Linked DNA regions of Homo sapiens. The protein of the gene in region 2 interacts with the protein of the main gene of each other region in a pairwise test. Each region holds a gene or a part of one and is shown on either strand. Other genes may lie near its edges. The genes, in order: CNNM3, ZNF330 and RBAK.

Region 1 (3,748 bases), on a different chromosome or scaffold from region 2:
CATGCCACCCTGCCCTGGGGAGGGAGCCTGGGTTTGGGTCCAGACAGAGCCTCGCGGTGGTAAGTACTCCCATCTGGGCTGCCAGAGGCAGCCCCTGAGGCAGGGGTGGTTCTCCTGGTGTGGTGGCCAACATTGCAACCCTGGAATCAGCGGAGTAGGTTCCATCCTGCCCTTGCCTGCCCCCAGGCCCTGAAGGCTGCTCAGCCTCTTGTGGTGCAAAGTCCTCTGCTGTTAGTGATAAGAGTGGGTAAACAGACCTGCGGGGGGAGACTCATCAAGCACTTTGGCCAGTGCCTGGCGTGCATATGCTGTGTGCTTGGCGTTAGCAGGTGGTTCTTACTCCGGGACAGGCTCTGCTGGTAGGTGAGCTGTTTGCCAATCCAGGAGCAAGGGGTGAATCTGGAATTGCAGATTTCTGTTCTTCTAGGCAGGTCACCAGACTTCCTTTTTTTTAGGGAAAAAGTGGAAGACTGTAGCTGTCCTTTTGGTGTTCAAAGCACTCACGTTTCTAGATTCTTTAAGAAAAAGCTCACTCTGGTGTCTGGCTTCAGCTGGCTGCTGCTTTCAACAGTTGAGCAGTCACCAAGCAGAGATTTGGAGCAGCGGAGATGGAAGGGTTGTCCTGTTCAGAACTAAAGGCAACTTCTGTAGTTGGTCATGATGCTCAGGATGAGGCTGGTGAAAGTGGTCTTTCATTTTCCAAACCGCCAGTGTCAGGATCTTCGCTGCCATGGTCTTGTCTTTCAGATGCGATGGATGAGCTTGGTCCAGGGTGGTTGGGGATTCCACTTGGGGAAGAATAAAAAATGTTCATGTTCGTTGGGAAGGAGCGCAGAGGCAGGATGTCCCCTGGCGGGGGGGCTTGTGTGCTGTGTAAGGAACTTGTACTTGATCACCAGGGCCATGAGCATCAAGCAGCAGCATCAGTTATTTTTACAGATCAGTAACAATTGTGGACACCAGCGCAGGGAGACCAGCGGTGTGAGGGATCCAGGTGAGAGGGGATGATAACCTGAACAAGGTTCATGGCAGGCCTGGAGAGGAGCCCCAAGAGGGCAGCAGAGGTGGAATTGGGAAGATTGGTATCTGGCAGCAGGGCTATGCAACAAGGAGGAGCAGCTGAGGATGAGGCCCAGATTTCTGGCTGTGTGGTGGCGGTGCGCCTTCACTAAGGGCCGGGCGTGGGGAGCAGGTTTTGGCCATTGAATTTGTGTCTGTGCAGTGTCCCAAGAGGCAAACTCCTAGCAGGCCGTTGATGTGAAATGCAAGTGGGAGGCAGAATAGGAGTGTCTCTCAAGTCATGGGAGGGAGGCAGAGAGCCTCAGCCTCCTAGGAGCACAGGTGTGTCAGGGGCAAGGGAAGCCCAGGAGAAGCTGGCCAGGAGGAGGCAAGACCAAGGAAGGAGGAGTTCCCGAGATGCGGAATGTCCTGGAAGCTAAGGGAAGAGACCACTTTCCCAGGGAAGGTGAGTGACAGGAGAGGAGGCCAGCAAACAGGATGCCGTTGACCTTTGCAAGAGCAGATTTGGTGCCACGGCAAGGGAGCCATTTGGGGAATGAATGAGGTGTGGAAAGGTACGAGAACCAATGTAGACAGCCCTCCACAGAGTGTGGCTGCAGAGAGAAGTGACTGGCAGAGGATGTGGGACAGGGGAGGAGGCCTTCTGCTGTTTGGTTTTAAGATGGGCAAGTCCAGTAGGTTCAGATTGAAATGCAGGTTGAAATGTAGCTAGGAAGGAAATTAGAGAGGCCAGGGTCCGGGCTGCTCCTGTTCTGGGCTGGGTGGCCTCCAGGCAGGTCACAAGCAGCCCGATGCAGGAGGATTTGGGGTTGAGTGCCTCTGCTTGAAACAGACCTTTCTAAAAGCTGCCTGACAACATGCTGAAAAGGATCCCCTTGGAAGACAGTGGGGGAGGTTTTTGGAACCTGGAGGTTAAATGGGGAGCTCTTTAATCCCCCTTGACTTCCCCGCTCCTGTGGTGAGTGAGGGCCATTCGTGGGCAGACTGGCCATGTCTTTCTGGTGACATCCCGGAGCTTTTTTCTCTGCTTCTCTAGTTCAGTGCAGTCCTTTGGCAAATATCTTTATTTTTTCCGTGTTAAAGTCCTTTTTGTCCTTCCTAACCTTCTTAAGCATTCCTCCACTTAGGAACAAAGGGCATATTGCAGTCTTTGTGGCGTGTGAGGTTTTAAAAATCGATTCCCTTTCCATCTCTCTGCCAAGCTAATGAGCCTCTGAATTTCGTGGAGCTGGAGTCCCTGCCATCTTGGCAGCTTTCATTCCGGGTCTTGTTTCTTTTGCTGTGTCTGCTAGGGAACTTTGTAGTCTGGGGGCAAGGTAACCTCCCCAGCAAGGCGCCCCTCAATCAGTGCCAACTTGAGATGACGTGCTGATTATTTTGTGCAGACGTCACCAGGAAGAGTGAGTGCTTTGGAGCCATAATAAATAACTTGGACAGCTGCTCCTTGACTTACAAATGGAGTTATGTCCTGATAAACCCATTGTAAGTTGAAAATACCTTAAGTCAAAAATGTGTTTGATACATCTAACCTACCAAACCAAATAGTTCAGCCTGGCCCACCTTAAACATGCTCAGAACACTTACTTTAGCCTGCAGTTGGGCAAAGTCATCTAACACAAAACTATTTTAAAATAAAGTGTTGAATATCTCATGTAATTTATTGACTGCTGTACTGAAAGTGAAAACAGAATGGTTATATGTGTTTGAAGTATGGTTTCTACTGAATGCATATTGCTTTTGAACCATCAAATTTGAAAAATTGTAATTTGAACCATTGTTAAGTAAGGGACCTTAATGTACAAAAGAACATTATTATTATTATTATTATTTTTTTTTTTTTTTTGAGATGGAGTGTTGCTCTCTTGCCAGGCTGGAGTGCAGTGGCACAATCTTGGCTCACTGCAACCTCTGCCTCCCGGGTTCAAGTGATTCTTCTGCCTCAGCCTCCTGAGTAGCTGGGACTACAGGCGTGCACCACCACGCCCAGCTAACTTTTTTATGTTTTTAGGAGAGATGGAGTTTCACAATGTTGGCCAGGATAGTTTCGATCTCTTGACCTTATGATCCGCCCGTCTCGGCCTCCCAAAGTGCTGGGATTACAGGTGTGAGCCACTGCGCCTGGCCAAGAACATTATTATTATTATTTTTGAGACAGAGTCTTGCTCTGTCACCTGGGTTGGAGTGCAGTGATGTGATCGTGGCTCACTGTAGCCTCTACCTCCTGGGCTCAAGTGATCCTTCCACTTCAGCCTCCTGAGTAAGCTGGGGCCACAGGTGAACACCACCATCCCCAGCTAATTTTTAATTTTATGTAGAGATTGGGGTCTCCCTATGTTGCCCAGGCTGGTCTCAAACTCCTGGCCTCAAGCGATCCTCCCAGCTCAGCTTCCCAAAGAGATGGGATTACAGGTGTTTCCCACTGTGCCTGGCCGCAGTCTCTGCTTTAAAGGAACCCAGCTCTGGTTTCCTGTCTGCTGGGAGCCAGATGATTGCCATGATGCGGAAAAGAGTCTGACCAGCTCCAACAGCAGTGAGGAGCGTCAGCACACTACTTTTGTCTTTCTCACAGTATTCATTCATTCACTGAGGTGCTTTAGAAAACAGAAGAGAGAAGGTATTCCAACTGTTATTAACATCATAGAAATTGGGCATTATGAAAGGGTACTTTGGCATTCAAATAATTGGGGTACCCTGGAGCCTGCTAACTAAAATTAAACTTGAAGCTTTT
Region 2 (3,748 bases):
TTGTTCCTATGAATTTGAGAGAGCAATTAACCAAATTCCATTAAAAAAATCTATATGAGGATTTGATTTGAATTGCATTGAATTTATAGAATATTTCAGTTCCTTATAATTTTCATATCCCAAATTGCTTATTATAATTTTGTCGTTTTATATAATGTTTTAGATTTACCCTATATATTAAATAAATTGATTATTATTACTTTTTGTATTCCCTCCTGCCTTTTAAATTCCATTTTCATCTTGTGAAGACTGCCCTTTGAAATTCTTTCACTGAGTATCTGTGAATAGTAAAGGTTCTTTGTCTTTGTCAGAATATTTATTTTGCCATCACTCTTGGTAGTGAATACTGGCAGGCACTACCCAGATCCCTCTTCCTCAATGAAAGACTTATTTCCTGAGCTGCTGAGAGTGCAGCAAGCCAACACAATCCAGCTCTTGGCCATCTTCAGGAGTCCTTTAACCCAAGGTTGCACTCTTCTCCTTTGGCAGCGTTCATCCAGTGACTAAATGTCATAGGTGTATAAAGGTCCAGCCCAGTTCCCCTAACTCAAGACAACTCTGAAGGGATATCCCAGATTCAAAACGAGGCCTTCACTGAGACGTCACTGCAGGTCAACTCTTCCCTCTGCTCAATCCTGCTTCCATTTCTCCTGCAGATGTTGTTCCCCAAAGCATTCCCTAACATACTCATTATACTCTTCTCTGACTCAGAGTATGCTTCCTGGGGAAGCCAACCTAAAACAGTTGGTGTCAGGAGTGGTTCAAGTTAGGCTAAGATGGGATTTATGATTCGAATCACAGGCCATGTGACTATCAATGAGGACCCCCTCGGTGGTAGGTGTAGGACACACAGACCTCGGCACAAGGTAACAGTGCAATAGTTACAACTTTCATCAGTAATGAAACTGGGGTGGTATTCTAACGTAACTGGGGTGGTATTCTAATTTATATACGAGTAGGTAAAATGTATCAGGCATTTGAGAACTATGAGGGAAATAGTAACCTTAATGACAGTGGCATTGACTGTTATTGCTAAGTAAAATTGATTCTTTGAAAATAGCAAAAGGCTGAGATGGTTAATTGGCTATCAAAATCTAAGAGTAAATTCCAGAAGGCCTCTTTGGTCCAAATAAAGAGGCTTTTATCTCCTGCAGGGGGAGGGCAGGAAAAGCACAGGAATAGGCCTGGTACTGAATCCTAAGTGCGGCAGAGCTCCGAAAGAGATTAGGAAACCCAGCTTGGTCGGCTATGCAAAGGTGGAGGTGCTTGATCGGAAGGAGATTCTGATGCAGGGGGAGGATCATCAGGTTTCAGTTAAAAGCAGGCAGATTACACATTAGAGGTAGAGAATGTGGGATGATTTGTTCACAAAGGAATGGAATCCAGAGGGCATAACAGAAATAAGAGACAGGGGAGGCTGGTACGGAAGTTCATCAGGCAACTGAAGGCACAGTTTGCGCAGCAACCAAGAAAAGGTGGGATGTGAGGCACGCAAGATGTAGAGGTGGGGAAAGGTTTCCAACAGAATTCAACATGAATTTGCTGTTTGAGTCAATTGATCCAGTACCAAGTCTGTGAGTTCATTTTCCTCTTCCTTTTAGATTTCTCCTTTTTCTAAAAAAGTAAAACTGAGGGGGCCTTCCCCTGCTTTCCCTCCTTCTGCTTCCCTATTTTCCCTCGCATTCCCTTCCTTTTCTGCAGATCCTCTGCTTAGGAATGGGGCATTGGCCCCCGCAGGAGTGGGCGGGGAAGGGGCGGAGCGAACAGAGGTGGGCGGCTCCCGTCCTATGACGTCAGCCGTAAGGCGCTGCTGTCGTAAAAGGACGTCCGGTCCGTCTCCTAGTGTCCGGAATCGGCTGTCAGCCTCCCTGGCTGTTAGTACCTTCTTTCCCGGAGTCCTGGTCCACGAGTTGGATTTACTGCTGTCGCGGGTGGGCCTCACGCCATTCCCTGTCCCTCGGCCCCCTGAGTGAGTCCGGTCTCCCGGCGAAAGTGAGCGAGGTTTGCCCGGAGCGCGCACGAGGTAGGGTGTCCCGCGGGCGGGTGACGGTTGCGGGTCCCCGTTGCGGGTCCCCGAGCCGCCTGGCACCTCCGCCGCTTCTCCCCTGGACGCCCCTCCGCCCCACTGGGTCCTCCAGCTCCAGGCTGGACTCCTAAAGCCGCAGTGCCCCGTGCCTGTTTCCTCATTTGGTGACACACGCAGTGCATGCAAGAAGTTGGAGTGTTACCGGAAAAGGGCTTGAACCCGTATAAGGCTGAGAAGAAGATTCACTCTTTTGAGCGTGCAGAACAAACTGGAGGGAAAAAAAAATGAGATTTAACTTTATCAGAGGATTCAGAGGATATCTCTGAGGACGCAGAAAGTTAATCCGCATGATCACCTCGTGATTATTTTCTGAGGTTCTTTGGCCAGGGCAGCACGCCCTCTAGATTTTGTCATTTTACATATTGGAATGGTGCCTTAGTGGTCTGGGCGTTACGTTACCGAAATAACCACCTATTAAATCTGGCTATTTTTCAGTTGCTACCGTACTGCTTACCACCTGTTTTGTTTTTTTTTTAATTGAGCATTCAGTTCAGAAAACTTCAGTTTAGAAAAATCTTGTATTTCAACTAAATGATGAAAATTAAACATACTCTTAAACGTAAATTTGAACCCCGTTAAAATTACATGCTCACTGCGTGTAGAGGGAAGAGCATTTGTTAAAGTCAGAGCAACTAATACCTTAAATATCTTCAGAATGTTTTGACTTTGTAGTTAATAAATAGTGTTATTTGTTGACTGTTAGATGTTTTGTTTACATATTACATAGGAAAAATTAAACTTGTTATACTTAAGGTGTTGGCAGCGTCAGGTCATCTGAATATATAGCTCAAAAAAGTGATATAAACTGGCTAAATAATGCTCTTATTAATGATTTTTTTGTTTTTGCTAATGATACATGATTCATTTGTTTTAATGAGGTGCAGAATACTTTATCATTGGAGAAACTTTTTTCTTAGTGGGAAAAGAAGACTAGTTTGTCTTTTAGGGTAAATTTTTTTGACGTTTACATTTTTAGAATCGTTAGTGCCAATAAATGCGTTAAGGATCACCCGCTTCATTTGGAATAATATGTGCTTAACGTTTCATAAGGCTTAGAATGTGCTTAACTATCGAAAGGATAGAGTTTAACATTTAACAAGAAAAAGGACACTTTGTTATACTATTTCTTAGTTTATTAAAATAGTAAATGCAGTCAGTCAATTATATCTTTTCTGTTCTCTTGTGTCAAAATAGGGGAAAATGCCTAAAAAAAAGACTGGTGCGAGGAAGAAGGCTGAGAACCGCCGAGAACGTGAAAAACAACTAAGAGCATCAAGAAGCACTATAGATTTAGCTAAACATCCATGTAATGCCTCAATGGTATCAGCTTTTTTTGATATCAGTTGGTAGTTGGAAAAACTATATACTATTTTATCTGACGTATACCTGAATAAAATTTTAGTGAAGACAGTGTTTTTGCATATAGTTTGTTGCTGAATTTAGTATCTCTGGCACGTCTGTTGATTTCACTGAGTGGCAGTGATTGTTGTTGGATTTTATATTATTATAAAACCTAGCATATTACTTTACATACTGTTGGTGATAAAGGTAGATATTGGACAAGAATAGATAATAGAAACTTTCATCTTCCAGTTTCTTTAATGCCTTAGTCTTATTGGGTTTTCATCATATTTTCTTAGCAATTCTTTCATTTCTCTTTTC
Region 3 (3,748 bases), on a different chromosome or scaffold from region 2:
AGTGATAGGCGAAGCATGCACTTGTAACTTTGTAACTCTAAGATAATCAGGTAGTAATCAGATGAGTGAGACTCTCATGGGTAACATGACTCCTTTTACAAATAGTCTGCCATCATCAAATACAACCTGCAAAAAGAAAAAAAAAATTCCCATTATACAGCTCATGTTTTTTGTGGTTTGTCTGTTTGTTGAGACAGGGTCTCAATCTGCCACCCAGGCTGGAGTGCAGTGGTGCATTCACAGCTCACTGCAGCCTCGACCTCCTGGCCTCCATTGATCCTCCCACCTCAGCCTCCTGAGTAGCTGGGACCACAGGTGCATCCCAGCATGCCTGGCTACTTTTGTATTTTTTGTAGAGTCAGGGTCTCCCTATGTTGCCTAGGCTGGTCTCTAACTCCTGGTCTCAAGGGATACTCTTGCCTTAGCCCCCGCAAAGTGCTGGGATTACAGGTGTGAGCCACTGCATCCGGCCCGCATTTTCTTATTGTCTCTTTAAACTGCTTAAAATCAAAGAAGCCATAGGAATTGAGTATGTGAGCTCTCAGAAATGAAATGAATGTGTATAAAATATGGTTTTGTTTCTAAATTATCTAACTGAACTTGGTTATTGCTGCACCTAATAATCTTCTATTAAGAAAACTAGGATACGGGAGAAAGAACACTGGCCTGGGAGATAAGACTCCTGAGTTCTACTATGAGCAACTCTACCCACAAAGCCAGTGACCCGGTCAAGTCACCCACCTGCTAAGGCCCAGTCTCTTCCCCTAGCAACTGAGGCAGCAAGAGAGAATCCCTGCAGACTGTTCCTGCATTACTACCAGTCTCCAGGGCAGATCTAAGGGGGGAATCAGCAGACACTTAAATGAGAGAACAGAGGCGCTGACGGACGTTTAGAGGAGGTCGAAATCTGGAGCACGGAAAGGAGGAGGAAGGGCTGTTAGGGGTTAGCGGGGAGTGGAGACGACGTCCGCAGCTGAGGCTGGTGACACCCTCCAGGCCCCCATAAGCCTCGTCCTCCCAGATTTCCCATGCAGCGCCTGTTCGGTGCAGCCGGACCCTGCCCTCAAACCCAAACACACGTCTCTCCTGCAAGCGATCGAGACCCTCCCCCTGCCCCACACTCTAAGGTCCCCAACACACGGTGACTTCACTCAGGCCCTTCTCGCTCCGGGCCCGAAAACCCAAGACCTACCCTTCTGGGGCTCCGCAGCCTCTGCCCCACGGCTCCCGAGAGGCCGGGGCGGGGCTGCTGTCGCTGGCGCGCGTCTGCTCGCGAGGTCCCCTCCTGTCCACCTCACTAAGGTTGTTCTGCTCCCGAGGGGCCCGGGCCGGGCCTAAGGGGCAAATCCAGGCGGGTGTCCTTCCCGGGACCCAGATCCGCCTCCCTCGGGCTCACCGTACAGCGGCAGCCTGGGCCAGGCCGCCAGGACACACACGGGCCAGGCCCGCGTCCCGCCGCCCCTTCGCCTCCGCCGCCACCTCCGCCACCTCCCGTCCGGCCCCTCTGGCCCCAGCGCCGCCGGCTCCGGGGCTCAAGCTCGGGGGTCCCCGCTCAAGCCTCCACCCGGCCCGCGCGAACCCTGGCCTGCACACCCCCGCGCCCGCCTAGGTGCTGGCCCGGGCGCTCAACCTCCAGCCCCGCAGGCTCCGCGATTCTCGTCCACTGGAGGCCAAAGCCTGGGAACTAGAGCAAGCGGTGACCTGAGGACGCACAGGAAGCGAGGGCAGTGCAGCGGCGGCGCGCATGCGCGAACACGCACACAGAGAGAGGTGCACACGCGCAGGAGTGCACCGGAAGTCAGCCTCCGGGGCCCACAGCTGGTCCCAGGACAAGCACCCTACTCTATTTCCCATGAGCCTACGCGCCCCCCAAGTTTAGGGGCCGTTTTAAATGTCTCTACCCTGCCTAAAGGTTAAGAAGCTCCAGGCTATGAGCTTTGGGAGCTCTGAACCCCTGATTGAACTTCGCATTTGTCTTTACTCCCTTTTAGGGTCAAGTCCAGGGCTGCCTGACTGGGTCCTGGAGCCCAAGGCCTCTGGGTTAGAACCGAGTTTCCCATAAAGAGAAGGAAAGGAAAGGGTGTATCGTGGTCACTGCGCTGAAATGCTAAGAGAAGTTTCACTCAAATACTAGGACAGGATAAATGCCCAGCGATGCTTTCCAAGGAAGAGAAAGAAAATAGAATTTGTGGCTGGGCGCGGTGGCTCACGCCTATAAATCCCAGCACTTTGGGAGGCCGAGGCGGGCGGATCGCGAGGTCAAGAGATAGAGACCATCCTGGCCAACATGGTGAAATCCCTTCTCTACCAAAAATACAAAAATTAGCTGGGAGTAGTGGCGTGTGCCTGTAATCCCAGCTACTCGGGGGCTGAGGCAGGAGAATAGTTTGAACTCGGGAGGTGGAGGTTGCAGTGAGCCGAGATCGCGCCCCTGGACTCCAGCCTGGCGACGGAGCGAGACTCTGTAGCTTTTCTAGATCACACAGCGAATGCCTAAAAACTGTAGAGAAATCAGGAAATACACAGATCGAACGAAGAAAAGAGATACCTGTGATCTCACCTTCCCCAGGAGGATTATGTTTAGGGTTAGGTTATGTTGACCAAAAAGACTCAAAGTCTGTCAAGAGTTTTATTCTGGGCCTCCTACTTGAGTGACCATGGCTGGTGACACAGCCTCAGGGGGTCCTGAGAACGTGAGCCCAAAGTGGTTGGGTTACAGCTTGGTTTTATACATCTTAGGGAGACAGCAGTTACAGGCAAAGACATAAATCAATACATGAGAGGTACACATTGGGTCAGCCTGGAAAGGCTTTCAGGTCACTAGCAGATTCAAAGATTGGCAGTTGGTTCAGAGTTAAGCGTTGGCTGAACAGTTGGAAAACGACATGAAGAAATGGGCCATTGCGGTGGCTCATGCCTGTGATCCCAGCATTTTGGGAGGGTGAGCTGGGAGGATCCCTTGAGGCCAGGAGTTGAAGGACAGCCTGGGCAACACAGCGAGACCCCCACCTCTACAAAAAAAAAAATTATCCAGGTGTGGTGGTGCATGCCTGTAGTCCCAGCTACTCAGGAGGCTGAGATGGGAGGATTGCTTGAGCCTGGGAAGTTGAGGCTACAGTGAGCCATGATGGTGCCACTGCACTCCAGCTTGGGCAACAGAGAAGAAAAGAAAGAGAGAAAGAGAGGGAGGAAAAGAGAGAGAGGAAGGAGGGAAGGAAGGAAAAGAAAGAGGGAGGGAAAGAAAAGAAAAGCTTGAGTTAAGATAAGGGGCATTGTGGAAACCAAGGTTCTTGTTATGTAGATGAAGCCTCAGAACAGGCTTCAGAGAGAATAGATGATAAATATCTCTTATTGGATCTTAAAAGGTGTCAGAATCTCCAGAAAAGACTTCTTTTCTGTAAGGGAAGGAGATTCTCTACAGAATGCAAATTTCCCCCAAAGAGATGGCTTTGCAGGACTATTTTAAAGTGTGTCAAAGAAAATATATTATGGGATAAAATACTATGATTTCCTTCAGGGACTGCTATCTGTCATGTGATGCTATATCAGAGTCTGGATGGAGTTGGGTATCTTACTGATACAAAGAGCCTGTTCTGTCAGTCTTATGATCTGTATTCTAGTGTTAATGTTGGTCAGCTGTGCCTAAACTCTGAAGGGAGGAGAGTATGACAAGGCATGTCCGACCCCCTCCTTCCCATCATGACCTGAATTAGTTTTTCATGTTTATTTTGGATCTTGCTGGCCGACA

What was found.
Region 1: the proteins of ZNF330 (region 2) and CNNM3 interact in binary tests that used the Homo sapiens proteins (3 or more experiments, as listed by UniProt).
Region 3: the proteins of ZNF330 (region 2) and RBAK interact in binary tests that used the Homo sapiens proteins (3 or more experiments, as listed by UniProt).

Annotation. Positions count from the first base shown.
Region 1 is NC_000002.12:96,819,159-96,822,906, forward strand, and holds part of CNNM3 (metal transporter CNNM3 isoform 1 precursor), read left to right. Parts: intron 1-3,748. UniProt on the Homo sapiens protein: Probable metal transporter.
Region 2 is NC_000004.12:141,219,086-141,222,833, forward strand, and holds the start of ZNF330 (zinc finger protein 330), read left to right. Parts: upstream 1-1,809; 5' UTR 1,810-2,023; intron 2,024-2,071; exon of another isoform or gene 2,072-2,400; intron 2,401-3,280; 5' UTR 3,281-3,286; coding exon 3,287-3,406; intron 3,407-3,748.
Region 3 is NC_000007.14:5,043,841-5,047,588, reverse strand, and holds the start of RBAK (RB-associated KRAB zinc finger protein), read right to left. Parts: upstream 1,730-3,748; 5' UTR 1,193-1,729; intron 1-1,192. UniProt on the Homo sapiens protein: May repress E2F-dependent transcription. May promote AR-dependent transcription.